Regions from separate parts of the Homo sapiens genome. Here region 1 is linked to region 2. Evidence: fine-mapped expression QTL. A gene starts in region 2. The other region holds a variant in brackets. All regions are shown on one strand. Distances are between the middles of the regions. Region 1 overlaps TRIM58 (tripartite motif containing 58). Region 2 holds the start of OR2W3 (olfactory receptor family 2 subfamily W member 3).

What was found.
Region 1: its variant is fine-mapped to the expression of OR2W3 in thyroid (GTEx, PIP 0.97).

What each region holds. Positions count from the first base shown.
Region 1 is chr1:247,863,579-247,877,852 of GRCh38, forward strand. TRIM58 (tripartite motif containing 58) reads left to right here. Exons shown (of 6, transcript NM_015431.4): 3 at 1,127-1,357; 4 at 4,267-4,289; 5 at 4,385-4,485; 6 at 12,322-14,274. The coding sequence ends at 12,911. Among named protein-coding and RNA genes, the nearest start is that of TRIM58, 14 kb to the left of the region's middle. The variant G/A (reference allele first, on the strand shown) is at 9,451.
Region 2 is chr1:247,889,907-247,905,386 of GRCh38, forward strand. OR2W3 (olfactory receptor family 2 subfamily W member 3) reads left to right here and starts at 5,681. Exons shown (of 1, transcript NM_001001957.2): 1 at 5,681-6,625. The coding sequence starts at 5,681. The coding sequence ends at 6,625.

The DNA.
Region 1 (14,274 bases), 27 kb before region 2:
TACAAGGCCGTATAACAATGTAACAAAACTGCATTTGTACCCCATGAATATATACAAAAAATAAAATAAATCGATAAAACAGGACAGAGAATGGGAGGTATAGATACTTTGAGGGAATAATTTACCTCTCGTACTCAGCTTAAAGTTAGTTTTCGATATACTTATCTTGAGAGAAGAAAATCTAGAAACTAAGCCTGGGACGAAGTATGTTCCTTAGGTCTATTCAGAAACTGAAGACGTGAGATTCAGGTAGAAATTGGGATTAATTCTCTGACGTGAACTCTGAAATCAGTGGCCTGAGCATCACTTAGTTCTTTCTTGGCTTTGTAGAGAATGTTAGGCTTATGGTTGTGTTCACTATTACCATATTATGAAACAGCATTCATATTTTCTCATCTCTCAGCCTTTTCTTATTCAAACAAACATTTCTTCATCATTCAGTTGTTTCTAGTGGTTCTAGCGACTGATCTAGTAGTAAATAGTAACTTCTGCTGTGTGACTGCTCTATGCTAATCACTGTTCTTGTAGTTTAATAGATATTTAGCTGTAATCCACATACTCCTCTTTTTCCCCACATTTTTTAAGAGATGGAGTCTTGCTCTGTTACCCAGGCTGAAGTGCAGTGGTGCAATCACAGCTTACTGCAGCCTCGAGCTCTTAGACAAGTGATCCTCCCACCTCAGCCTTGTGGGTAGCTGGGACTACAGGGCTTACCACCATGCCTGGTCGGTTCATTTTAATTTTTTTAGAGATGGGGTCGCATTTTGCTTTGTTACCCAGGCTGGTCTTGAACTCCTGACCTCAAGCACTCCTCTTGCCTCGACCTCCCCAAAACCTCACATTTTGTATATGGTACTGAAACTTCAGTATAAAAGTGCCTTGCCCCCAAGCCTGTGGCAAAATGGGAACTCCAGTCCAACAGTATTTTTTAAACTTAATTTGAAAACTCTCCTGGGCTACTTCTTATATGAATGGACTCCAGTCTGTGCATGTTGTTAGGATGCAACCAGTGAGTCCACAGAGTTACGGAGCCCGGGGAAGTCTGGACATTACCTTCTCCAGCACTGTCCTGTACATGGCTGCTGGAGGCCAAGCACTGACGATGTGATCCACGGTGTCACCTCAGGAGAAAGTGGAAATGCAGAGGCAGCGCTTCAGATTGGAGTTTGAGAAGCATCGTGGCTTTCTGGCCCAGGAGGAGCAACGGCAGCTGAGGCGGCTGGAGGCGGAGGAGCGAGCGACGCTGCAGAGACTGCGGGAGAGCAAGAGCCGGCTGGTCCAGCAGAGCAAGGCCCTGAAGGAGCTGGCGGATGAGCTGCAGGAGAGGTGCCAGCGCCCGGCCCTGGGTCTGCTGGAGGTGAGGCCGGGTGCCAGAAAAGCAGGCAGATGTGAGACTCAGGTGACAGAGACTAGTACAATGGCTTTCAGAGACAAACACTTTGGCGTTTATGTTCTTTAGGAAAAGGGCACCCTCAAATTTACTCAGAAGGCAGCTTAAACACCCTAGAATTTACTCAGAAGCCATTCCTGGCATCAGAATCATGAGATTCTAGAGAATCATATAGTTTGAGTCTGGCATGGTGGCACATGCCTGTAGTCCCAGTTATTAGGGAGGCTGAGACAGGAGGATCGCTTGGGCCAAGGAAATCGAGACCTTCCTGGGCAACATAGCAAGACCCTGTCTCAAAAAACAAACAAACAGCATATAGTTTGTTTTAAGGACTAAAGAATTCTTAAAATTAATGATTTCTGAAAACTTAAACAGCTAGGGAAAGGACAAGCTACACTCTGCTGGCTGAGAAGTAATTCCTAAAACCTCAGAGTCAGTTTGTCCATGATAGCATTGCTGTTTTTTAGGGATGGCTAGCACAGAAAGTCTGCATAATACATTTCAGTGTCACTGGCCAGAAGGATGAATAATGATTTAAATTGTCCAGCTTGAAATTGTTATATTGGATTGTAAAGCAAACACTGATTTCCTGGCCCACATTGCATGCCCGTTCCAGGCATGGCGAGGAGGGATTACGTGGACTCCCGTGCAGCTTCCTCCCAGTCTGTTTGGGATTAGAGAGCAGAAAGACGAGTAAGAGTGAAAGGAAATCTTTGTTTTTAATCCTCTGTGAGGCATCATATCCCAAGTGAACAGGGAAAGCCAAAGTTGTTGATAGATCCATGTTTTCTTGGTAGAACCAATGGCAACAGAAATTTATCTGGACCGACTCCTATCTCCTCCCCAGTGACTCACGCAGGGGATTCTAAACTAAGTGATGCATGTTCTCATTTAAAAGCTGACCCACGGATTCCACCTTTTCTGACTCAGTTCTAGGCACTGAAAGTACCATGAATATAAATAATCCTATTAACTGTCTGTATAATATTTGCAAGTACAATGACTAAACAGGACTGATTATGAGGCAGGGGACCATTAGATGAATTTATAAAGCCATTTAATTTGTCTCATTTTATCTTATATATATTAAATTTATATTTTATTATTATTGCTATGTTCATTTCCTTGTTAGCAAACTAAGAGTCAGAAAGGAATTAATTTTCCAAATAGCAGAGAGCAAAATACAAGAACTTTGACGGTTTCTTTTCTTTTGTTTTTTTGAGACAGAGTCTCGCTCTGTTGCCCAGGCTGAGTGCAGGGTGCAGTGGTGTGATCTTGGCTCACTGCAACCTCTGTCTCCTTGGCTCAAGCGATTCTCCTGCCTCAGCCTCCTGAGTAGCTGGGATTACAGGCATGTGCCACCGCACCTGGCTAATTTTTTTTTTTGCGTTTTTACTAGAGATGGGGTTTTGCCATGTTGGCCAGGCTGGTCTTGAACTCCTAACCTTAGGTGATCCGCCCACTTTGGCCTCCCAAAGTGTTGGGATTAAAGGCGTGAGCCCCTGTGCCCGGCTTGACAATTTCAACAATAGTATTTATTGCTCTGCCTGCCTTGGCCTCCCAGAGTGCTGGGATTGTAGGCATGAGCCACCCCGCCTGGCATGGGAGGATATATTCTTAAATAAGGTATCTTATCTATCTATTTTTCTAAAAGGGCAGGATCTCACTCTGTCACTCACGCTGGAGTGCAGTGGCTCAATCATAGCTCACTGCAGCCTCAGTCTCCTAGGATCAGGTGATCCTTGTGCCTCAGCCTCCCGAGTAGCTGGGACTAAAGGTGTGCACCACCACGCCCAGCTAATTTAAAACAAATTTTTAGTAGAGATGAGGCTTGGTTGTGTTGCCCAGGCTGTATATTTTTATACTTTCCTTTCCCTTTCTTCCCTGGTACTAATAAGCTACATTTTACCCCTGAAGGCCAAGACCAAGGCCTGACATTCCCATACAGGGTAAAGCAAATTATTCCCCTGCTTTTATGTCATTAAAACTTATCTGACTGGCAACTGTTTTTAAGGGGAGAGGGGAAATGTATCCCAAATACAATTATTAATATAATAAATGTATCACAGATATATTTATTTAATAATCTACTTTGAGAAAATAATGTTACTAGTTATTAAAGGCTTCCTTTATTAATCTATTTAGATAACCTCCTCATAGGAATAGCTCTGGTACGTTGGTTCAGAGAATTAGGAATTTATAATTCCTATAAAGATATTTAGGGAAACATTTTGTGTCTTTATTTGAGGAACCTATCCATGCCCCTCAAATAAATTCTATGAGTACTTAGGATCTATTTTATCCTGTTCCGTCTGAATTACATGCAGAATGTTACTCTGTTACAATATCCAAGTAGCAGAATTATTAATTCAGAAGATAATTAAATTGATAGGTGTTGCAGGAATTAACCTAAACTTTGTATAGCTTTAAAGAAAAGAGATTTGTCTGAGTGTGGTGACTCACGCCTGTAATCCCAGCACTTTGGGAGGCTGAGGTGGGTGGATCACCTGAGGTCAGGAGTTCGAGACCAGCCTGGCCAACATGGTGAAACCCCATCTCTACTGAAAATACAAAAAAATAAAAAAAATTAGCCAGGCGTGGTGGCGGGAGCCTGTAATCCCAGCTACTTGGGAGGCTGAGGCAGGGAGGTGGAGGTCGCAGTGAGCCGAGATTGCGCCATTGCACTCCAGCAGCCTGGGCAACAAGAACGAAACTCCATCTCAAAAAAAAAATAGAAAAGAGATTTATTGTCCCCTATAATTTTATCTCAATAATGTTTTGCAGTAGTTTCTAAGGAAATTTTTATGGGGTCTTCAGTCTGACTGTGAAAAGCAGTTCAGAGTCCAACTCACACTGTGTTTTTCTTTCCTTTTCAGGGTGTGAGAGGAGTCCTGAGCAGGTATGTGTGCTTTCTGAATTGGTGAAGGGATTGGGAGAGGCAGAGGAGCTGGTGGAGAACCCTGCTGACTTCTGTGGTTTCTGTGCTCTTCCCAGAAGTAAGGCTGTCACAAGGCTGGAAGCAGAGAACATCCCCATGGAACTGAAGACAGCATGCTGCATCCCTGGGAGGAGGGAGCTCTTAAGGAAGTTCCAAGGTAGTTGCATCTTAGAGACTGGGAATTAGGCTGCCTGGGGTTTGAAGAAGTTCCAAGGTAGTTGCATCTTAGAGACTGGGAATGAGGCTGCCTGGGGTTTGCCTCGTATTGTGGTTTGTCACTATGCCAGTCAGCTGCAGTGACCAACAGAACCTAAAGTCTTAGTGGCCCAGATCAGCAGAAATTTATTTTGAGAGTGTGCTGTTGGTTTGTTCCTAGGTGTGGGGACTTCTGTGCCACATCTTCTCACTCTGGTACCCATACTGACAGAGCTCTACCTCCCTCTTGGTGCTGGGAGCCATAGAAAAGGGCAGGGTTATTGAAGAGATGGGGGAAGAAGTTCTCTTCCAGAGTCAATACAACACATCACTTCTGGTCACCAAAATGTGTGGGGATTTCTCTCCGCAAACAGCCAATCAGTTCTCCAGCAGATACTCCAGCCAGATGTCCTTCCATGCAATTTGATTTTGACACTATCTATCTGGAGATAGCACCAGGTTCCCCGGGTTGAGGGCTTTGTCCCACAAGACTGACCCCACTTCAGATGCTGGTCACAAGCACAGGTTGTGGTCTGTGATTCTGACCAACTGACTGTAAACTGGGGTTCCCACAACCCTCTTCTTGAGTTCACTTAATTTCCTGAAACAGCTGACAAAACTTAGGGACACATATTTACTCATTTATTATAAGGGCGTTACAGAGGCTAGAGATGAACAGATGGAAGAGATTCTTAGGGCGAGGTTTGTGAGAAGGGGTACGGAGCTTCCACGCCCTTTCTAGGCCTGCTACCTTTGGAACCTCCGTGTGTTCAGTGATCTGGAAGTCCTCAGGACTCAGTTCTTTTTTTTGTGTGTGTGATGAAGTCTTACTCTGTCGCCCAGGCTGGAGTGCAGTGGCGCCATCTCAGCTCACTGCAACCTCCACCTCCCATGTTCGAGCGATTCTCCTGCCTCAGCCTCCCGAGTAGCTGGGATTACAGGCACATGCCACCATGCCTGGCTAATTTTTATATTTTTAGTAGAGACGGGGTCTCACCATGTTAGCCAGGCTGGTCTCGAACTCCTGACCTCAAATGATCTGCCTGCCTCGGCCTCCTAAAGTGCTGAGATGACAGGCGTGAGCCACTGTGCCTGGCCAATGAACTCAGTTATTTTGGGTTTTTATGGAAGCACTATGTAGACGTGATTGATTAGATCATAGGCCATTGGTTTACCAACCCACCCTTAAGCCCCTCTCCCTCTTCAGAGGTGGGGGGGGGTGAGGCGTGAAGGACTGAAAGTTTCAAGCCTCTAATCACATGGTTGGTTCCCCTGGCAACCACACCCAGTGGGAGGCTTTCTGGGTAATCACCAACCACAATTCATCTTATTAGCTTACAAAAGACACTCTTGTATTTCTGGAAATTTCAAGGATTTTAAGAACTGTATGTCAGTAAACAGGATATAGACCAAATACACACTTCACAGTATCATAGGCATGGTGAATGTAGACCAAATATATACTTCCCAGTGTCATAGGTATGGTGCCTCCTGCACTGTAGACCAAATACGTACTTCACAGTATCATAGGCATGGTGACTCATGCACTCCTCTTAAAGGTACCCATGCTGAATTAGAGCATCTGGCCTTCCTGAGATTTCATGGCTAAGTCAAACTATCAAGGAGACAGTGTAGGGGGCAAGGGAAAACTTTCCCCTTTCCCTATGAATGTTTGCTGAAAATCAACTGACCAAAGACAAATAGGAACAAAGGCATAGAAAAAGTCTAACATTCATAGCACAGTGGAATCGCAGGAGAGTAATGACCCAATAACGCAGTGGGATACAGATGCTTATATACCTTTCTTTATTGGAGGAAAGGGAGATGGGGAGGTGTGGATGATTTTAGGGAGATAGTAAATGATTTTTTGGAGGATTCATTGGGCTTGGAGTGCATACAGTGGCTTGGGACAAAGTGTTGAAAAGTAGACAGTGGTTTGTGACTAAAGTCTGTCCAGGTGTATTGATAGACTTGTCTGTCTTCCTGCAATATGAGCTAAATTAATTAAAATGCAGGGACTTCAGGCAGATAAATGAGTGTTAGAATAAAGCTTCTTACAGTGTGTGATGGTCTCCAAGGGCCTTTAATTTAAAATAATGGGCATACCAGGGTGCCATATTTTAGGGTAAAATTCCCTGGTCTCCTTCCGTGGGAGAGTGCACCATGCCCAGAAAAATTAGGATTGGTATATTCATGAGCAGTATCAGAGTCACGGCCACCCATAGAGCCTGCACCACCATGCCCAGAAGAACGAGGATTAGTATATTCATGAGCAGTATCAGAGTCACGGCCACCCATAGAGCCTGCACCACCACGCCCAGAAGAACGAGGATTAGTATATTCATGAGCAGTATCAGAGTCACGGCCACCCATAGAGCCTGCACCACCACACCCAGAAGAACGAGGATTAGTATATTCATGAGCAGTATCAGAGTCACGGCCACCCATAGAGCCTGCACCACCACGCCCAGAAGAACGAGGATTAGTATATTCATGAGCAGTATCAGAGTCACGGCCACCCATAGAGCCTGCACCACCACGCCCAGAAGAACGAGGATTAGTATATTCATGAGCAGTATCAGAGTCACGGCCACCCGTAGAGCCTGCACCACCACGCCCAGAAGAACGAGGATTAGTATATTCATGAGCAGTATCAGAGTCACGGCCACCCGTAGAGCCTGCACCACCACGCCCAGAAGAACGAGGATTAGTATATTCATGAGCAGTATCAGAGTCATGGCCACCCATAGAGCCTGCACCACCACGCCCAGAAGAACGAGGATTAGTATATTCATGAGCCGTATCAGAGTCACGGCCACCCATAGAGCCTGCACCACCACGCCCAGAAGAACGAGGATTAGTATATTCATGAGCCGTATCAGAGTCACGGCCACCCATAGAGCCTGCACCACCACGCCCAGAAGAACGAGGATTAGTATATTCATGAGCAGTATCAGAGTCACGGCCACCCATAGAGTCTACATTTGGTTAGACTATGGGCTTAAAACTGTAGGTCATCTCTTATTAGCTGATATGAGTAACGTTACTTCCAGTAAATTTACATTTCCTTGCTTATAAAATGCTAAAAATAAATTGCTTGGAGGACAAAATGAAACATTTGAAAGCACCCCACCTCCTAAAAGTAATCAATATGAAAGCACTGCAAAGTTATCAATTAGCAAGAAGTTTGGTTTAATTTATTGGCTGAGAATTTGATGAGTTGCTTGAATTAGTGAGTCAATAAAGCCAAAAATATTGTCAGTTATTTTCATGTAGGAATAAGCAGTGTCACAAAAAATTAGTGTGTTTAGTCTGATTGTATTATTCTTTAAAACAGTATAGATTCAGTATTGTTTACAATTTCATTTTAAAATCTAATTTATCCCAAGTAATGAAAACTATGTCTAAATAGTGACTTCACTACTTAGAGGGAAAGAGTGTAAAGTCCCTTAATGAGAAAACCCATCTCTGCAGCATAGTACCCACGTTCTCCTGGGTAGATGAATGTATGCTAAATGCCCAACTTGATTAAAATCGTCATGGCACCCTCAGACTCAGCAACCTCATATCCATATTTGTTTTTATGGAATGAAATCATTCAAAATGTGTGATTAATTTTATCTCACCCATTCTTTTAAACATTGGAATATATCATTCAACAACAACAACAAAATACTCTACAATCCGTAGCTTTGTGTTGCAGATATGTACTTCACCAAAATACACAGGCTGTAAGTGGCTGACACAGAATATTGAAGAAAATCAAAAAGAGTATGCAAAGGGTAATGAGAAGTTCTAGTTTTGAATAAGGTGACCAGGAAAGACCCCGCCCTGCAGGGGATAACCCAGCAAATATATGATCTGGAAGAAAGCATTCAGGCAGCAGAAATGAGCGCCAAGGCCTGACGTGGAGGATGGCAGGTGTGTTCCAGGAGCTGTGAGGATGTCAGTGTGAGGACTCTGTGGCAGAGTAAATGACAGGAGGGTCGGAGAGACCAAGAAAGGGCTAGATAGGCAGGCCATGCTGAGCATGATACTTTATCCCTGAGCGAAATAGGACATAGTTGAAAGTTGTACCTAGAAAAATAGTTTGATTGGACTAATGTTTTATGAGGATCACTCTATATGCTTTCTTGTAAGTAAATTACAGAGAGGAGAAGATTGACATGGGAAAAGCAGTTAAGGGTCTTTGCAGTAATTTGATGAGAGATGATTATGTGTTGGAATAGATGTTATTACGGAAGGTGCCGCAAGATGGACAGATTTTTGTTATATACTGAAGGCAGAGCTGTTAAGATTTGCTGTTGGATTATATATGATGTGCTATAAACAGGAAGAGCCATGAATGATTCCAAGGTTTTGGATCTTGCGAACTGGCAAAATGTGATTGCCACTTATATTGATGAGGAAAGCGACAGTTGAAGCAGAAGAAGGGCACAGGGTTTTGGATATGTGGATGTTGCGATGAGTGCTAAATATTCAAATGTTGCTATCAAGTGGGCAGATGAATGTACAATAGGGAGTTTCAGGGTAAAGTTCAAAGCTAAGCACATGCATTGGGAATCAGTCAGCATATGAATGGAATTTTATCAAAGCAATGAACCAGCCAGCACCCGGGTAGATAGGGAGTGAGGTGAGAGAGAGAGAAGAAGTCCAAGTCTTGGGACTATAGGTTTCTCCAGTGGTGGTGGTGGAGGAGAAGAGAACAGCAAAGAGGATCAAGGAGTAGTGAGCAGTGAGGGAAGGGAAACATGGATGAGTGTTACCTTTGGAAAAGGGAGATTTTCCAGCACAAGTAGATTCTCAGTGTTGAGAGATACAGAAAAATCATTGAAGATGAACTCTGGGCCGGGCGCGGTGGCTCACGCCTGTAAATCCCTGCACTTTGGGAGGCCGAGGCGGGCAGATCACCTGAGGTCAGGAGTTC[G/A]AGACCAGCCTGATCAACCTGAGGAAACCTTGTCTCTACTAAAAATACAAAATTAGCCAGGCGTGGTGGTGCATGCCTGTAATCCCAGCTACTCGGGAGGCTGAGGCAGGAGAATCACTTGAACCCGGGAGATGGGGGTTGCAGTAAGCCAAGATCATGCCATTGAACTCCAGCCTGGGCAACAAGAGCAAAACTCCATCTTAAAAAAAAGACAAACTGACAAGTAACCATTCATCAACACGGAGGTCCCTGGGAAGATGGACATGCGCAGTTTGGTTGGGGTATGGTCACATCATGATGAAGAATTGAGTTTAGGAGAGAAGGGGTAGGGAGAGGAATGGGATACAGACCATATCAAAAGCCATTTCACAGATCTCTTTTGTTAGAAATGAAGCAGACCACTGTGCCGGAAGAGGAATGGCTTGGGAATACATGACCTGTTAGATTGTGTTAAATGCACAATCCATGGAGACCTACCTTTCAATCTCTGTTATTTACCTCTAGAGTTTGGGAAGACCACATAAACTCTTTGACTCTGAATCTACTCTTGTGTAATGTAGGGATGACAATGGTGACCCTCAGGGTGGTTACATAATAAAAATAATGCAATGCGCAGTTACGTGACCACTCAGGTTGGGTATCAATAAAAATTCACTAGACCGGGCGTGGCAGCTCACGCCTGTAATCCCAACATTTTGGGAGGCTGAGGCGGATGGATTGCTTGAACCCAGGAGTTCGAGACCAGCCTGGGCAACATGGCAAAACCCCTTCTCTACAAAAAAATACAGAAAACTAGCTGGGCATGGTGGTGTGTGCCTTCCCAGCTACTCAGAGGGCTGAGGTCAGGGGATGGCTTGAGTCTGAGAGGTGGAGGCTGCAGTGAGCTGTGATTGCACCACTGCACTCCAGACTGGGCAACAGAGCGAGACTCCGTTTCAAAAAAAAAAGTAGTTCACTGTAAGTGTTTAAAGGCAAATAAGTATAGTGGTAGTGGTAGTAGCAGTAGCAGTAGCAGTAGCAGTAGAAACAGTATTTGTTCTGATATTAAAAATCAAACTATATTAACATGTTAGTCTGATTTTGCATTGCTATAAAGAAATACCTGAGGCTGGGTAATTTATTAATATAAGGAAATATGCTTTATTTTGGCTCATGGTTCTGTAGGCTGTACAGGAGTCATGGTGCTGGCACCTGTTTCTGGTGAGGCCTCAGGACACCTACAGTCATGGTGGAAAGCAAAGGAGGAGCCAGCGTATCACATGGCAAGAGGGAAGCAGTGAAGTGGGGAGGCCCCAGGTTCCTCTTAAACGACCAGCTCTTGCATGAACGGATAAAGAACTCACTTATCACCAGTGGGATGGCACTAAGTCATTCATGGGGGATCTGCACCCATGATCCAGCACCCCCCACTAGGCCCCACCTTCAACATTGGGAATCACATTTCAACATGAGACCGGGAGGCGATACACATCCAAACCATATTATTTATTAACTTACTACTTATAAGCAATGCTAATAAGGAAATGCACTGAATATTTTACATCCCCCCTTCACTGAGGTTTCATATCTAGATGTATTTATTTATTATGTATATGGGTCAAATGTCTCATCAATCTCACTGGGACTTCAGAGTATCAGTATTTTTTATTGTTATATAACGCATAACTACAAGCTTATGTGCTTAAAGCCATACCATTTAGTAGCTCATGGTTCTGAAGACCAGACATCCAAGTGGGATCAGCTGGCTCCTCTGCTTAGGTTTTCTCAAGGCCCAAATATGGGTGTTGGCCAGGCCAGGCCAGGCTTCTGTGTAGGTCGGGGGAAGAACCTTACCTCCAACCTTATTCAGGTTGTTGGCATAATACAATTCTGTGCAAATGCGGTACTGAGATTCCTGTTTTCTTGCTGGCTGTTGGTTGGGGGCTATTCTCAGCTCTGGAGATCACTCTCAGCTCTAGAGGTCACTCGTTTGTCTCTTCATGTGACCTTTCCATTTTCAAAGCCAGCAAAGAGATATCAAATCCACATCTTATTGACCTTTCCTGCTGCCACCAACCCAATAGCCAGAGAAAACTTTCTGATTTTACAGGACTTGTGGGATTTGATTAGACGCACCTTGATAATCTCTCTCTTGTCATATAGTGTAACATACTCATGAGGCTAACACCAGGGTGTGAAGGTCATGGGGTCCATCTTAGAATTCCGCCTACCACAGTAATATAACTTTGGAAGTAGTGGATTTAATATTAATAAAATTCTATAGATTTTTAAGAAAAAAATTCCTAAGGGGTTTATAAATTTTATGTTAAATGCAGAAGATCCTCCTAAGTGCACTCAAATGCTTTGGATGTAAGCCAGACATGGTGGTGTGCACCTGTAGTCCCAGCTGCTGGGGAGGCAGACACGGGAGGATTGCTTGAGTCCAGGAGTTTGAGGCTGTAGTGTACCACGGCTATGCCCATGAATAGCTCTGCACTCCAGCCTGGGCAACATAGCAAGACCCCGTCTCTCTGTCTCTCTCTCTCTCTCTCACGCACACACACACACACAAATGCTTTAGATGTAAATGAAAGGAAACTAAATGATAATTCACTTGGTTTGTCGTCATCAATAGTTGTTTTTTTTTGGGAAAGTTAAAGAGTTCTGGGTTACGCAGAGGTAACAGTGGAATATACCAGAAAGTTATAAAGAATAAGAATAATAAAGTAATAAAGAAGATTTCACCTGTAAGGTGAAATACTGATTTGTTTTCTCTAGGAGTTAATAGAGAGAGAAAAGTGAGGAACTGTGGGACTATTCTTTTCAGTGGTTTCCTAAGTTTCTACCAGTCCTTTCTTTCCTTTCACCTGGTCCACCACATTCTTTCCGCAGTGGATGTAAAGCTGGATCCCGCCACGGCGCACCCGAGTCTGCTCTTGACCGCCGACCTGCGCAGTGTGCAGGATGGAGAACCATGGAGGGATGTCCCCAACAACCCTGAGCGATTTGACACATGGCCCTGCATCCTGGGTTTGCAGAGCTTCTCATCAGGGAGGCATTACTGGGAGGTTCTGGTGGGAGAAGGAGCAGAGTGGGGTTTAGGGGTCTGTCAAGACACACTGCCAAGAAAGGGGGAAACCACGCCATCTCCTGAGAATGGGGTCTGGGCCCTGTGGCTGCTGAAAGGGAATGAGTACATGGTCCTTGCCTCCCCATCAGTGCCTCTTCTCCAACTGGAAAGTCCTCGCTGCATTGGGATTTTCTTGGACTATGAAGCCGGTGAAATTTCATTCTACAATGTCACAGATGGATCTTATATCTACACATTCAACCAACTCTTCTCTGGTCTTCTTCGGCCTTACTTTTTCATCTGTGATGCAACTCCTCTTATCTTGCCACCCACAACAATAGCAGGGTCAGGAAATTGGGCATCCAGGGATCATTTAGATCCTGCTTCTGATGTAAGAGATGATCATCTCTAAAATTCTGTTCCCAAGATGCAGTCCTAGCGTAGCGAACGTTCCTGGAGTGGGGTGAAGGATATCAATATACTAAGTTTTAACAGATACCCCATTTAGGTCAGCACTTGATTCGTTGTTGCTGTGAAATATGTCCATGGGACAAAAGAGGGAATATGAAATATTTGCATATGGGAAGATTATAGAGCATAATAATTTTGTAAATGGAGCAATCTCAACCTCTATTTCTAGATCACATTTTCTTGATGTCTTCCTTCAAATTAATGACCTTGGATTACATAAGGATTTCTATGCATTCATTATAATTTGTTATTCCTTTCAATATCCTTGTATTTCAAATCTTCCATATAAGAATTAGACATGGCAATTCTTAAATTGATTCAGAATGGTCTGATACTATTCCAGTATCACCTCCTTAATTCTGTTTCTCCTCGTTTTCCTGATTTTCCTTCTCATTCTCTCCTTCCCCGCTCTGTCTCTCTCTCCCTGTCACTCTCTCTCTCTTGTTCCTTATTTTTTGTTTCTTACCTCTTACTGTTTAACCTGTTGCTTCCTTCTGGATTAATACATTTAGAGCCATTCCTTTATATGGTCACATTTCCTATGACTTTACTCAATTACTTTTAAAATCCTTTCTATTCTGAGACTAATTTTTAAGAATTACAAAGCTCATTCTTCTGAATCTAATATCACTAACTCCTAGACTTTTTCCGTTTTCTTTGGATACACTTTAAGTAGGAATTTATCAGAATTTTCATTCAACTCGTTCTTTAATGCAGATATTTACTAGTTATAAGACCTTAAGGCTGGGTGCAGTGGCTCACGCCTGTAATCCCAGCACTTTGGGAGGCTGAGGCGGGTGGATCACAAGCTCAGGAGTTCAAGACCAGCCTGGCCAACATGGTGAAACCCTGTCTCTACTAAAAAAAAAAAAAAAATAGAAAAATTAGCTGGGCATGGTGGCAGGAGCCTGTAATCCCAGCTATTCTGGAGGTGGAGACAGGAGAATTGCTTGAACCCTGGAGGCGGAGGTTGCAGTGAGCCAATATCTCACCACTGTACTCCAGCCCAGTGCGAGACTCCATCTCAAAAAAGAAAAAAGACCTCAAACAACACTTCTCTCTCTCTTTTAGCTGCTTGTTATGGTTCCTATACATGGAACAATTATACTGGCCTCACTGTGTTATGGTAAATATTTAAGGTCATATTTGATATTGCTGGTTTGAATTCAGCTTTTCCATTTAAATACATTATAATGATGATGATGAAATCATGATAATATTTAACTTATTTTTAAAGTATATTCTGTACCTTTCCAACAAAAAGGTTAAAAGTCATTGAAGGCTAACCTTACTGCCTTCTTTGT
Region 2 (15,480 bases):
GGCAGTATGGCCATTTTCACGATATTGATTCTTCCTACCCATGAGCATGGAATGTTCTTCCATTTGTTTGTATCCTCTTTTATTTCCTTGAGTAGTGGTTTGTAGTTCTCCTTGAAGAGGTCCTTCACATCCCTTGTAAGTTGGATTCCTAGGTATTTTATTCTCTTTGAAGCAATTGTGAATGGGAGTTCACTCATGATTTGGCTCTCTGTTTGTCTGTTGTTGGTGTATAGGAATGCTTGTGATTTTTGTACATTGATTTTGTATCCTGAGACTTTGCTGAAGTTGCTTATCAGCTTAAGGAGATTTTGGGCTGAGACAATGGGGTTTTCTAGATAAACAATCATGTCGTCTGCAAACAGGGACAATTTGACTTCCTCTTTTCCTAATTGAATACCCTTTATTTCCTTCTCCTGCCTAATTGCCCTGGCCAGAACTTCCAACACTATGTTGAATAGGAGTGGTGATAGAGGGCATCCCTGTCTTGTGCCAGTTTTCAAAGGGAATGCTTCCAGTTTTTGCCCATTCAGTATGATATTGGCTGTGGCTTTGTCATAGATAGCTCTTATTATTTTGAGATACGTCCCATCAATACCTAATTTATTGAGAGTTTTTAGCATGAAGGGTTGTTGAATTTTGTCAAAGGCCTTTTCTGCATCTATTGAGATAATCATGTGGTTTTTGTCTTTGGCTCTGTTTATATGCTCGATTACATTTATTGATTTGCGTATATTGAACCAGCCTTGCATCCCAGGGATGAAGCCCACTTGATCATGGTGGATAAGCTTTTTAATGTGCTGCTGGATTCAGTTTGCCAGTATTTTATTGAGGATTTTTGCATCAATGTTCATCAAGGATATTGGTCTAAAATTCTCTTTTTTGGTTGTGTCTCTGCCTGGCTTTGGTATCAGAATGATGCTGGCCTCATACAATGAGTTAGGGAGGATTCCCTCTTTTTCTATTGATTGGATTAGTTTCAGAAGGAATGGTACCAGTTCCTCCTTGTACCTCTGGTAGAATTCAGCTGTGAATCCATCTGGTCCTGGACTCTTTTTGGTTGGTAAACTATTGATTATTGCCACAATTTCAGCTCCTGTTATTGGTCTATTCAGAGATTCAACTTCTTCCTGGTTTAGTCTTGGGAGAGTGTATGTGTCGAGGAATTTATCCATTTCTTCTAGATTTTCTAGTTTATTTGCGTAGAGGTGTTTGTAGTATTCTCTGATGGTAGTTTGTATTTCTGTGGGATCGGTGGTGATATCCCATTTATCATTTTTTATTGTGTCTATTTGATTCTTCTCTCTTTTTTTCTTTATTAGTCTTGCTAGCGGTCTATCAATTTTGTTGATCCTTTCAAAAAACCAGCTCCTGGATTCATTGATTTTTTGAAGGGTTTTTTGTGTCTGTATTTCCTTCAGTTCTGCTCTGATTTTAGTTATTTCTTGCCTTCTGCTAGCTTTTGAATGTGTTTGCTGTTGCTTTTCTAGTTCTTTTAATTGTGATGTTAGGGTGTCAATTTTGGATCTTTCCTGCTTTCTCTTGTGGGCATTTAGTGCTATAAATTTCCCTCTACACACTGCTTTGAATGCGTCCCAGAGATTCTGGTATGTTGTGTCATTGTTCTTGTTGGTTTCAAAGAACATCTTTATTTCTGCCTTCTTTTTGTTATGTACCCAGTAGTCATTCAGGAGCAGGTTGTTCAGTTTCCATGTAGTTGAGCGGCTTTGAGTGAGATTCTTAATCCTGAGTTCTAGTTTGATTGCACTGTGGTCTGAGAGATAGTTTGTTACAATTTCTGTTCTTTTACATTTGCTGAGGAGAGCTTTACTTCCAACTATGTGGTCAATTTTGGAATAGGTGTGGTGTGGTGCTGAAAAAAATGTATATTCTGTTGATTTGGGGTGGAGAGTTCTGTAGATGTCTATTAGGTCCGCTTGGTGCAGAGCTGTGTTCAATTCCTGGGTATCCTTGTTGACTTTCTGTCTCGTTGATCTGTCTAATGTTGACAGTAGGGTGTTAAAGTCTCCCATTATTAATGTGTGGGAGTCTAAGTCTCTTTGTAGGTCACTCAGGACTTGCTTTATGAATCTGGGTGCTCCTGTATTGGGTGCATATATATTTAGGATAGTTAGCTCCTCTTGTTGAATTGATCCTTTACCATTATGTAATGGCCTTCTTTGTCTCTTTTGATCTTTGTTGGTTTAAAGTCTGTTTTATCAGAGACTAGGATTGCAACCCCTGCCTTTTTTTGTTTTCCATTTGCTTGGTAGATCTTCCTCCATCCTTTTATTTTGAGCCTATGTGTGTCTCTGCACGTGAGATGGGTTTCCTGAATACAGCACACTGATGGGTCTTGACTTTTTATCCAACTTGCCAGTCTGTGTCTTTTAATTGGAGAATTTAGTCCATTTACATTTAAGGTTAATATTGTAATGTGTGAATTTGATCCTGTCATTATGATGTTAGCTGGTGATTTTGCTCGTTAGTTGATGCAGTTTCTTCCTAGTCTCAATGGTCTTTACATTTTGGCATGATTTTGCAGCGGCTGGTACCGGTTGTTCCTTTCCATGTTTAGCACTTCCTTCAGGAGCTCTTTTGGGGCAGGCCTGGTGGTGACAAAATCTCTCAGCGTTTGCTTGTCTGTAAAGTATTTTATTTCTCCTTCACTTATGAAGCTTAGTTTGGCTGGATATGAAATTCTGGGTTGAAAATTCTTTTCTTTAAGAATGTTGAATATTGGCCCCCACTCTCTTCTGGCTTGTAGGGTTTCTGCCAAGAGATCCGCTGTTAGTCTGATGGGCTTCCCTTTGAGGGTAACCCGACCTTTCTCTCTGGCTGCCCTTAACATTTTTTCCTTCATTTCAACTTTGGTGAATCTGACAATTATGTGTCTTGGAGTTGCTCTTCTCAAGGAGTATCTTTGTGGCGTTCTCTGTATTTCCTGAATCTGAACGTTGGCCTGCCTTGCTATATTGGGGAAGTTCTCCTGGATAATATCCTGCAGACTGTTTTCCAACTTGATTCCATTCTCCGCATCACTTTCAGGTACACCAATCAGACGTAGATTTGGTCTTTTCACATAGTCCCATATTTCTTGGAGGCTTTGCTCATTTCTTTTTATTCTTTTTTCTCTAAACTTCCCTTCTCGCTTCATTTCATTTATTTCATCTTCCATTGCTGATACCCTTTCTTCCAGTTGATCGCATCGGCACCTGAGGCTTCTGCATTCTTCATGTAGTTCTCGAGCCTTGGTTTTCAGCTCCTTCAGCTCCTTTAAGCACTTCTCTGTATTGGTTATTCTAGTTATACATTCTTCTAAATTTTTTTCAAAGTTTTCAACTTCTTTGCCTTTGGTTTGAATGTCCTCCCGTAGCTCAGAGTAATTTGATCGTCTGAAGCCTTCTTCTCTCAGCTCGTCAAAATCAATCTCCATCCAGCTTTGTTCTGTTGCTGGTGAGGAACTGCGTTCCTTTGGAGGAGGAGAGGCGCTCTGCGTTTTAGAGTTTCCAGTTTTTCTGTTCTGTTTTTTCCCCATCTTTGTGGTTTTATCTACTTTTGGTCTTTGATGATGGTGATGTACAGATGGGTTTTTGGTGTGGATGTCCTTTCTGTTTGTTAGTTTTCCTTCTAACAGACAGGACCCTCAGCTGCAGGTCTGTTGGAATACCCTGCCGTGTGAGGTGTCAGTGTGCCCCTGCTGGGGGGTGCCTCCCAGTTAGGCTGCTCGGGGGTCAGGGGTCAGGGACCCACTTGAGGAGGCAGTCTGCCCGTTCTCAGATCTCCAGCTGCATGCTGGGAGAACCACTGCTCTCTTCAAAGCTGTCAGACAGGGACATTTAAGTCTGCAGAGGTTACTGCTGTCTTTTTGTTTGTCTGTGCCCTGCCCCCAGAGGTGGAGCCTACAGAGGCAGGCAGGCCTCCTTGAGCTGTGGTGGGCTCCACCCAGTTCGAGCTTCCAGGCTGCTTTGTTTACCTAAGCAAGCCTGGGCAATGGCGGGCGCCCCTCCCCCAGCCTCGCTGCTGCCTTGCAGTTTGATCTCAGACTGCTGTGCTAGCAATCAGCGAGATTGCATGGGCGTAGGACCCTCCGAGCCAGGTGTGGGATATAGTCTCGTGGTGCGCCGTTTTTTAAGCCGGTCTGAAAAGCGCAATATTCGGGTGGGAGTGACCTGATTTTCCAGGTGCGTCCGTCACCCCTTTCTTTGACTGGGAAAGGGAACTCCCTGACCCCTTGCGCTTCCCAGGTGAGGCAATGCCTCGCCCTGCTTCGGCTTGTGCACGGTGCGCGCACCCACTGGCCTGCGCCCACTGTCTGGCACTCCCTAGTGAGATGAACCCGGTACCTCAGATGGAAATGCAGAAATCACCTGTCTTCTGCGTCGCTCACGCTGGGAGCTGTAGACCGGAGCTGTTCCTATTCGGCCATCTTCGCATGTATTTATTTTTATTTGTCTTAGTTTGGGAGTACTGTTTTGTTACCTCCACGTATGGATTTATATTAATTTGCGAGTACTGCTTTTTACCTGCACATACATGCTTATATCTATTTATATTAATTTGGGAGTACTGCTTTTTACCTGCACATACATACTTATATCTATTTATATTAATTTGGGAGTACTGCTTTTTACCTGCACATACATACTTATATCTATTTATATTAATTTGGGAGTACTGCTTTTTACCTGCACATACATGCTTATATCTATTTATATTAATTTGGGGGTACTGCTTTTTAGCTGCATGTATTGCACAGTGGCGAAGTCTTGGCTTTTAATGCATCCATCACCCAAACACCAGGATGGACCAAGTCTCCCTATATCCATCTGTAAGACTTGTGGTTTGTCTTATCAAATATGCTTTGCTTTGAATGTGATGTGGTATTAGAGTTGGAACGTGATAGAGGTTTCTGTACATATGCGTGAATTTTGCATTACAGTTGTAATATCTGTTACAAAGTTTTTTCAATCTCTTTTATCCTCTCAAGCAGTATATAGTACTTTGGAAGAAAAACCCATACACTCTATTTGTTCAATACCAGGCCCATTTAAAAGACAGAGAGAAAAAAAGAGATTTTATGTGTATTTTGCCTGTCTCTTACATTATTTATCTACTGAGGTAATTTTAAAATTAAATTAAATTAAATTCTGAGGTAATTTAAAAATTACCTCAGTAATGGTAACCCAATGAATGAGGTGTGTCTTTGAGACCAGTAATAGATAAAGTACTCTGTGTGTAAAGAGTATTTCCTAAATACTATTGATGGATTATTTTGAGGCTCCATTTTGAGTCCTTGAGGTTTTTGGCAGGAGCCTAGGGACTGGAGTCTCTAGAAAAATTCGTGGTTTGGCCACAGCAGGATTTGCCTTCACTTCACTGGATTTGGAGGCAGTGCTACTGGTGGTTTAGATTGCACACTCTCAGCTACATTGCCGGGGTTCAGAATCAGCTCTGTGTCTTCCTACATATCACAGTTTGCTCAACACACATGTGTTTCAGTTTCCTTTTCTATAAGTTGGGAGCTAATAATAATAGTGCAACTCCATATAACTGTTGGGGTTGAATGAATAAAATAAATATAAAAAGCATAGAAGAATGCTTAGCTTCTAGTAAGTTCTCCCTTAATATCAGCTGTTATTATTATTATTAGGATTGATATTTCTGTTCAGCAGCAGTAGAGATGGATGGAACCAATGGCAGCACCCAAACCCATTTCATCCTACTGGGATTCTCTGACCGACCCCATCTGGAGAGGATCCTCTTTGTGGTCATCCTGATCGCGTACCTCCTGACCCTCGTAGGCAACACCACCATCATCCTGGTGTCCCGGCTGGACCCCCACCTCCACACCCCCATGTACTTCTTCCTCGCCCACCTTTCCTTCCTGGACCTCAGTTTCACCACCAGCTCCATCCCCCAGCTGCTCTACAACCTTAATGGATGTGACAAGACCATCAGCTACATGGGCTGTGCCATCCAGCTCTTCCTGTTCCTGGGTCTGGGTGGTGTGGAGTGCCTGCTTCTGGCTGTCATGGCCTATGACCGGTGTGTGGCTATCTGCAAGCCCCTGCACTACATGGTGATCATGAACCCCAGGCTCTGCCGGGGCTTGGTGTCAGTGACCTGGGGCTGTGGGGTGGCCAACTCCTTGGCCATGTCTCCTGTGACCCTGCGCTTACCCCGCTGTGGGCACCACGAGGTGGACCACTTCCTGCGTGAGATGCCCGCCCTGATCCGGATGGCCTGCGTCAGCACTGTGGCCATCGAAGGCACCGTCTTTGTCCTGGCGGTGGGTGTTGTGCTGTCCCCCTTGGTGTTTATCCTGCTCTCTTACAGCTACATTGTGAGGGCTGTGTTACAAATTCGGTCAGCATCAGGAAGGCAGAAGGCCTTCGGCACCTGCGGCTCCCATCTCACTGTGGTCTCCCTTTTCTATGGAAACATCATCTACATGTACATGCAGCCAGGAGCCAGTTCTTCCCAGGACCAGGGCATGTTCCTCATGCTCTTCTACAACATTGTCACCCCCCTCCTCAATCCTCTCATCTACACCCTCAGAAACAGAGAGGTGAAGGGGGCACTGGGAAGGTTGCTTCTGGGGAAGAGAGAGCTAGGAAAGGAGTAAAGGCATCTCCACCTGACTTCACTTCCATCCAGGGCCACTGGCAGCATCTGGAACGGCTGAATTCCAGCTGATATTAGCCCACGACTCCCAACTTGCCTTTTTCTGGACTTTTGTGAGGCTGTTTCAGTTCTGACATTATGTGTTTTTGTTGTTGCTCTTAAAATTGAGACGGGGTCTCACTCTGTCACCTAGGGTAGAGTGCAGTGGTGCCACCATAGCTCCTTCGACTATTGGGCTTAAGCGATCCTCCCCCACCTCAGCCTTCCAAGTAACTGGGACTACAGGTGTGCATCACTGGCAGTGGGAATTGTGGCTTGTGGCTTTTCTGTCTTCTATGGAGACGGGGTCTTGCTGTGTTGACCAGGCTGGTCCCAAACTCCTGGCCTCATGTGATCCCCCTGCCATGGCCTCCTAAAAGTTCTGGGATTACAAGTGTGAGTCACTGCGACTGGCCAACATTATGTGATTTATGTGTGAACTATATAACACAAATCATCCCCAAAACCCATCATGATCTGTAAAGCAGCTGCAAAGAATGAAGTGAGACAAACAGTTGTAAAGATGAGTTTCCACCTACTTATACCAGAGTGCTAAGAGGAAATAACTCTTCTCAATCAGAGCTTTGCTTTGTTTGTTGTTGTTTGCTTTAAAGTCTAACACACCTGACATGTTTCAGTCAGAATGACCCCAAATGCATCACTGTTCTCCACGTGGTCCAAGTGCCTCTCTGTTTAGGGCCATCAAATCATGGAATGCAGCACAGTTTTATATTTTCTATATTCCCAATTCCTACCCAAACCTTTTCATGAAATCGTAGAGTTTGTTTTACCCTTTATCTGGTGTAAGATTCTGCATAAACCAAGAAGTGAACCTGTAAGTTATGATGCATGGGTTGTTTAAATCTTAAAGCATCATTCTTTCTCAGGCATGTTTTTTTCATTATTAGTAAGAAGAACCTGACATTGGTTTAGTCCCTTCTGTGTACCAGACGCTCCTAAGTCATGCAACCTCAGTATTTGTATGAGGTCAGCATGATTATCATTATTCCCATTTTATCTCCCTGGTCCTTGAGATCTGAAGGTTAAATCTTTTGCTCGAGGGGAACTGAACCAGGGTTTTTTCCAAGTTCTGTCAGACTCCCGATTCATATGGTTTCTATTGCATCATGAAATTTCAAAGAGCAAAAATCCTTAAGCATTTGGCACACAATGTCAAAGACCCTTTGGGGCTAAGGGGCATGACTGGCTACTGTTCCTTACACATTGCAGTCCTCAATGTGTCCCACTAACGTGCCCTCCAGTTATCTGAGGTCTTGTTCCAATGCAATTCCAATTCAGCTGGTGATAAGAGGGGTCTGAGTTTCTGCGACTCTGCAAACCTCCCAGGTGATGTCCCTACTTTGGGGACTCGGACTACATTTTAAGAACCCAGGAAGTATATCACCCCCTGCTCTTGTTCCGGGCATTTGGAGGGTGGACACATTCTGGAAAAAGTTGGGAGAGTGTTCATAGACCAAGGGCGAACACAAGGTGAGAGGGAGTGGTGTGAAAGGCCAGCTGAGGGGTGGTCCTCATTCCTCTGCCGTTGCTCCTGTGCTCGGCTCCCTCCTCCTCCACAAGTGTATTTCTGCGCTCTTTTGTATCCTCCTCACCTCCACACCTCACATCTAAAGTCACCAGCCCCAGGGCATTGTGTAAGTGTAAACAAACCAGAGCCCCAGAGAGGGGGATTCCTGTGCTTCCAGAGCACCCCCTCTGACTATTCAAGGATGCTGTTTGTAAGAAGTACTGATGTGGATGTGTAGTAGGAAGAGCCGCAGACAAAACTCCTCAGACACCGAGTTAGAGAAGGAAGGGGTTTATTCGACCAGGGGCATCGGCAAGACTCCTGTCTCAAGAGCCGAGCTCCCCAAGTGAGCAATTCCCGTCCCTTTTAAGGGCTCACAACTCTAAGGGGGTGCGCGTGAGAGGGTCGTGATCGATTGAGCAAGTAGGGGGTACGTGACTGGGGGCTGGTAATTAGATCGGAACAAAACAGGACAGGGATTTTCACAGTGCTTTTCTATACAATGTCTGTAATCTATAGATAACATAACCGATTATGTCAGGGGTCAATCTTTAACTACCAGGCCCAGGGTGTGGTGCTGGGCTGTCTGCTTGTGGATTTGATATTTGCCTTTTAGTTTTTACTTTTTTTTTCTTTGGAGGCAGAAATTGGGCATAAGACAATATGAGGGGTGGTCTACTCCCTTATTCCCCCCTTTGAGAGTCTCACTCAATAGTGGGAGTTCTCACTTTCATTTTTACTACCCATGTCTTCTGGCAAGACAGATCAATAGTGATTCATATAGTACACTTGTGCTGAAGCTTTTGGTGAACTAAGGTAGTGATGAAGCTTTTTATCATTTGAAGAAGTACAGGTAGCAAACAAAGGAGCAGTAAGTAGGTTCCTATTACTATTATAACTCTTATTATAAGAGTTTTAAATCCTCCTAGCTCTGGGAACCATTTTCTAAACATGGCCCCAGGATCAAATCCGTCACACTTGCATGGGCACGTGTGCCAGTTTTGTCATATCTCTAACTATGTCTTCAAATACTTGCCCTTGATTATCTATGTGTAGGCAGCAATTAATAAGGTTAAATTTCCTACAGACTTCTCCTTCAGCTGCTAGCAAGTAGTCAAGAGCCAATCTGTTTTGATAGATAGCATTTCTCATCTGAGTTTCTTGCTGGGTCAGAATGGTCAAGGCTCTGCCGGTTTTATTAGTGATTATTTTTAAGACAGCTTGTAACCATATGATTTGGTTGATCATGTACATGTGGGTCCGGTATCCTCATGAGCCGTCTTGTACCTAAGTAGCAGGCCCATAATATTGCACGATTCTCTTAGGGGGCCATTTATCATTTTTTCAATTTCTTATAGCTATGCTTCTCTTTTCATGGGAAGCATAGACAGGGAAGCCCAGGAGTTTGCCTGTTTTTATGGGCGGTAGGAAGAAAGATGGTTTAATAGTGCCAATAACACAACTACCTGCCTACTGGTCAGGTAATTTGGCATAAGCTCTATGCCTACATATCCAGTATAATCCAGTGGGGGCCGTCCAGTCCTGGTGGGACTCCAGGTGGGTCCACACGATCTGCAACTTTGGGAATTTATGAAATGGATTTCTCTCTGTGTGATTTGAACTCCACCAAGTGACTGTTTTTGTGGTACCATTATACAGTTTCTGTCTCCGACAACTAAGTCATCCTACAGGGTGAGTAAATTCTTTTCCTTCCCTAGCTATGCAATATTGTCCAATAATTGAGGCGTTTAGGACCTAGAAATTATCAGGGTGATTCTTTTGAGCCGGGAATTCATCAGGAACTGGGTCTGTAGGTACTAATTCTCGGGCTTCCCATGGCCATTGATCTCCCATTACAGTTCCTCCACATACATAATGTGAAGTGACATTGAGAGACTGGGCTACATGCTTGGCTAATTGCAAAAACAAATTTCATGTTTTTCCTGGAATTTCTGGTACTGGCACATTTAGTTCATCATAGAAAGTTTGAAACGCTGGCTCAGGAGAGCGTTTGTAAACTTCTCCTCGAACCAAGATATTTACTCAAGGATCCAGTCCGGCCCCGTCAATTCCTAAGGTCACACGCTCCTCTTTTTCCCAGCGAGGTTCAAGGGGCTTGGTTATTACTAGCTCTAAGGGGTTACATTGTCCCTTAGTACAGGAAGGGCCATTTTTTCCTTTCTGAAGGTGGACTGGATCCTTCTCATTTTTTTTTTTTATCCAAGTGGCCTAAAGGACACAAGACCAGTGTTTACATTTATTTCCACACAGCCCTAATTTATGACAGATGTACTTATTTTCTGCCGTATAGCCTCTTTTCTAATTAAGAGAACCACACCTTATTCCTAACTTATTACTATTAATGACAGCACAGGCATCAAATTTTAAGGTGACTTGTTTGGGCACCCCTTTTTCTTCTGTTTTGGCTAACACTTTACTCGTATCGTTTATGAGCCCCCACCAGTCCTCAGTCCTTAATCTTATTTTAAAAACTGTGGTCATGGGAGGCTCAGATGGGTCATAACACATATCAGATTGGTCATTTCCTGGGCTACATACCTTGTATAGAATAACATTATACAAACAAGTTCTTTTTAGAGTTCCAGTACACTTATAATAACCATAAAATAATAAGACTGTAGCAACCTTTTATCCTACCTCAGCGACTTGATGTATGCACTGGGAACAGCCCCAGTCTGAGGAAGGTCAGTTGAAGTCCTTACTGTACAAGTCCAAATTTTAAGGAAAATGAGTCCCGCGATGAGTTTCCTCATGCTTCAGCCATGCGTGGACCAGTCAGCTTCCAGGTGTGACTGGAGCAGGGCTGGTCGTCTTCTTCAGAGTCACTTTGCAGGGGTTGGCGAAGCTACTCCCATCCACATACAGCTCACAGTCTACTGATGTTTAAGGATGGTCTCAGAGGTTAGGCCTGCTAGAATAAACTGAGTCCAACACCTCTATACAGTTATGTTCAGCTGGGCTCTCTGATACCGGGAGCAAGGTGGTGGGGTTTAGGGTGTTGCAAACTTCAATGGTTATGTGGGGATTTTCACATAGCGAGCTTTGGTACTTGGTTAATCTAGCCTTTGTTAACCAATGATGTCCTTCTGTATTTATTAAAGTTACCACAGCATGGGGGGCCTTTATATCCAGGTTTTGCCTAAGGGTTAGTTTATCTGCTTCTTGTGCTAACAGGGCCCTTGCTGCTAGGGCCCTTAGACCTGGGGGCCAGGCTTTGGAAGCCCTGTCTAGTTGTTTTGAGAGATAGGCCACTGGCCTTGGCCAGGGCCCCACAGTCTGGGTTAAAACTTCAACTGCCATTTTTTCTCTTTCTGACACATAGAGCGTAGAGTTTTGTCAGGTCAGGTGGCCTCAGGGCTGGGGCTGACGTGAGTTTTTCTTTTAACTCATGAAAAGCTTGTTGCTGTTGGTTGTAATAGATGTAGTTTATCTAAACTACATTTTTCTTAACTGTCACCCACCAAAATATTGACTTAAATCCTGCAGCTGTTTGATTTCAAGCTTTAAATTGATCTGCTATTCTTCGTGGGACTCCAGTTGCATTTAAATAGACACGAGAGTCGAAAGACCCGTAAGGGGCTTCTCTCGCTTTACAGTGTCTTATTTTTTTTCCTTCTGGTTGATGAAATGCCAGGGTGAAAGGGATAGCCAATTGGACTAAAGCACAAGTGCCACTCCAGTTATTCAGCAGAGTGCCCAGTAAAGGTCCACCACAATACCACCACACATCCGCTCAGGGATGAACAAGGGCTGACTGATTGATAAGCTCTCGAAAATTCTTAAGCTCACTGCATCCTTTCAGGTATCCAAGGAATGCTAAGTTTCCTCCCTGTCATGAGAGACACGAAATGAACTTAGTGTTGGAAGATGGAAGCTGGATGGCCCTCGGGGGCTGACCCTCAGGGTGCTGGACTTTGGGATATAGCAGAGAGAGCTTGGCACGTCTTGTTACTCCAGACTGTAGAATCCTGGAAAAGAGCTACCATGCAGCCCACGCCTGGTCGACTGGAGGACCACCTTAGTGGAAAGGGGACAATCTGGGCCTCTGGTCTGCCATGTGCACGAGCATAACAATTGCTTTTGTTTAACGTGCAGATGGAATATTTGATCCATTTTAACTAGGCATTTGCATCGTGGTATCCTGTCTTAATTGCTAAAGTTTGTTTTAAGTCTTTAACTTCTATAATCCTCTAGTAAAATGAATGTATGGTTTTAGGAAATTACAAAAACTGGTTGGGGCAGTCCATCCTTGCTCTTTAGTGGTCCACAGAACATTGGACCAACTATGGCAGGGAAGCTCTACATCGGGGGGCAAGACTCCTGGTTGGCACTGGGGTGTTTATCGAAATCTCCCGGGATTAAATGGTCCTAGTTTACTAACGCCCAGTCTGAGGAGAGTCAGGGGGACAGAAGTGCTTTTCTGAAGTAGAGAGCTGTCTTTGACTTGGCACGTCCCCACAGGGTATAAAAGGGCAAGCATTAAATGCAATAGTTTGAGGCAAAATTGACTTGGTTATGTTAATAACTAGAGGGTCAGCAATAGAGCGCGGAAAGAAGAAAGAGTAATAGATGAAAAGCGTTAGATTTTTCTTAGCTTTAGTTTGGTAGGGTTTTCCTCTGGGACTATGGCCCACAACTCTGTGGCGGGGGTGGCACTTTCTTGACTGGGTGTGATGAGTCCATCCTTTTTTGCTGTATGAGCAGCTGTCTTGGTGGTTAGCAGCACAAGGTAGGGTCCTTCCTAGGCTGACTCGAGTTTTTCTTCTTTCCACCTTTCGATGAGAACGTGATCTTCAGGCTGGTGCTGGTTTACTGGAAATTCTGGGGGTAGTACCTGTGCTAAAAGACTTTTAGTTTTTTTTGCGAGAAAGGAAAGTGGAAGATAAACCAAGTATATAGTTTTTAAGAGATTGACCTTTTGTTTTAAATGTGGGGACCTTGGCAGTGGACTTTATAATACTTAGTGCCTTTTTACTGAGAAATTTCCTTTAGCACCTATTTTTATTAGTTTTTAAACCAAAGAAAACCAAATACCATTTTACGTTTAACAATGCTTCTCATATGATTTTTATACTAGATAAGCTAAATTTTATCTTTATATTAGTGTGTTATTAATGTTAAACCTAATTTTAATAAAACCTAGTAGACATTTATTTAATTTTTAATGTTTGACCATAAGGTAAGATTTTATAGACTCTTTTTAACCTTCTATAATTTTTGCTAAAGAGCAGGTTGGTGCTTTAAGAAAAACTTGTTATGCTTTTACTTTAATGTCCAGTTCACAGAAAAACTGGATGATACTTCTTTAACTTTAGCTAATATGTTTACACACATAATTTTCTTTATAACTAATGTTTTAAAACTTGCTTAAACCTTCAAAACAATAATTTTTTAAACTTTTTAATGTAGGTAAAAATGTACATTCTTATGCCTCATAATCCTTTTACTAAAGGTATATTTTACTTATACACCTTGGACATAAACTGTTTTTTTTTTCAATAGTTTTACATTCAGGAGGCCTAGTTACTTTTAAATTATATAACGTTTTTTGCATAAGTTCTTTTTTTAACACACTTTTAAAAATAACCTTTTTTTTTTCTTTCATGACTTTTACAGGCAATTTTTCGACATGCCTTAACTTTCTGACTTATTACAAACATTTCTTTCTTTAAACAACCAGTTAATATATTTCAGGACAAGAATTTACCATATAACACTCTTTTTATATGAATTCCGCCCCCACCCTTTTTTTCCCCGAAGATGATAACCATTCTTTTCCAAAGCAAACCTTTTTTTATGTCTGTGAACTAGACTGTCTACGGCCACAAGAATAGAAGTTACTATCATACATGTTACACTATTAACTTTCAGCAAACTTTACTTTTGTTGAAAACCTTGTAAGTCTGGGATTTTAATTATCCTTTGCTATTAATAAGACCTTGTCTTGTCCAAATTAGAATTGGTATAGATGGCTTTTTTTTTTTTTTTTTCAATTACCCAGAAGGAACCATAGATCGTCCTGTCCTGAAGGGAGTTCCTCCTAGGTTTGGTCAGACCTTCGTATGGTAATTAAGATTTAGATCCCATTAGGAAACCTGCTGGGTTAAGGGAATTTTCAGCAGTCAATGTTAAATCGTCTTTCTTTCTTTCTCTCTTTGACTTTGTCTCTCTCTCTTTCACTTTCCTTTTGCCTCTGTCTCTTTCTCTCTCTCTCTCTGTCTCTCTCTTTCTTTCTCTTTCTCCCTCTCTCCTTGGCTCCTTCTTTGTCTGTCTCTTCCTCTCTCTCTTTTCCTCTTTTCCTCTCTGTCTCTTTCCGTTCTCTCTCTGCTGGTCTTTCCTTGCCTCTGCCAGTCGCTTATGCTGCTGTTCTCTCAACCACTGTGTGTTGGGGGCGTGGGGTCTAAAACCAGCTGTAATCAAGTGTCTATGTATGGGAACTGGTCTGGATGCCTTGGCTTACAGGTTACCTTGTGCCATACCTTTGAAACAGGGGACCTGTACAGGCTTCCTTCTAATGGCCAACCTACCTCTAATGCTGGCTAGTCTATCTTACATAAAGTTTTAAGTTTTCCTGGTGTCATAGTACTCCATAGTCTCCCTTAAATCCTTTTTTTGAAATTTTTCAACATAGTTCCTAGTGGGGTGGGCTTACTTTATGCCTCACTCATGTTTCCTCGAGACAAAATACCACGCTCACACCACATGCACACCACAAAACAAAGAACGGGTAAAAAGGGCACACACACACTTTTGTAGTTTACACCAAACCAAAATCAAAACCAAAATCAGAGTATCCAGAAATCCAAGCCAGGTCAATACCAAAACCAAAGTATCAAGCAATCCAATTCAAGTCAGAAACAAAAACCAAAGTGCCGGTACAGGCATGTCGTGGGTGATCAGGTCACGCTTCCACTCAAATGGAGTGGGCAAGTTCCCAAGACCAGTCCTGTCAAGCAATTTAAACCAAGTCAAAACCAAAATCAAAACCAAAGTGCCAGTACGGGCATGCCGTGGGTGATCAGGCCACGCTTCCACTCAAATGGAGTGGGCAAGTTCCCAAGACTAGTCTTACCAAGTTTCAGATGTCCAGACTCCAAGTACCAGTTCCTTCCTGGTGTTCAGCCACTGCGCTGATCCTCCACAGGGGCCTGCCACACACTACTCTGGCGAGGCGTCCCATTGCGCTCTCAGGATCCGTGTCGCTCGGGCTGGTCAGAGTCCCCCACAAGGATGTTCCACAGGGCAGGCTTAAGCTCCTTAGGAGCTGC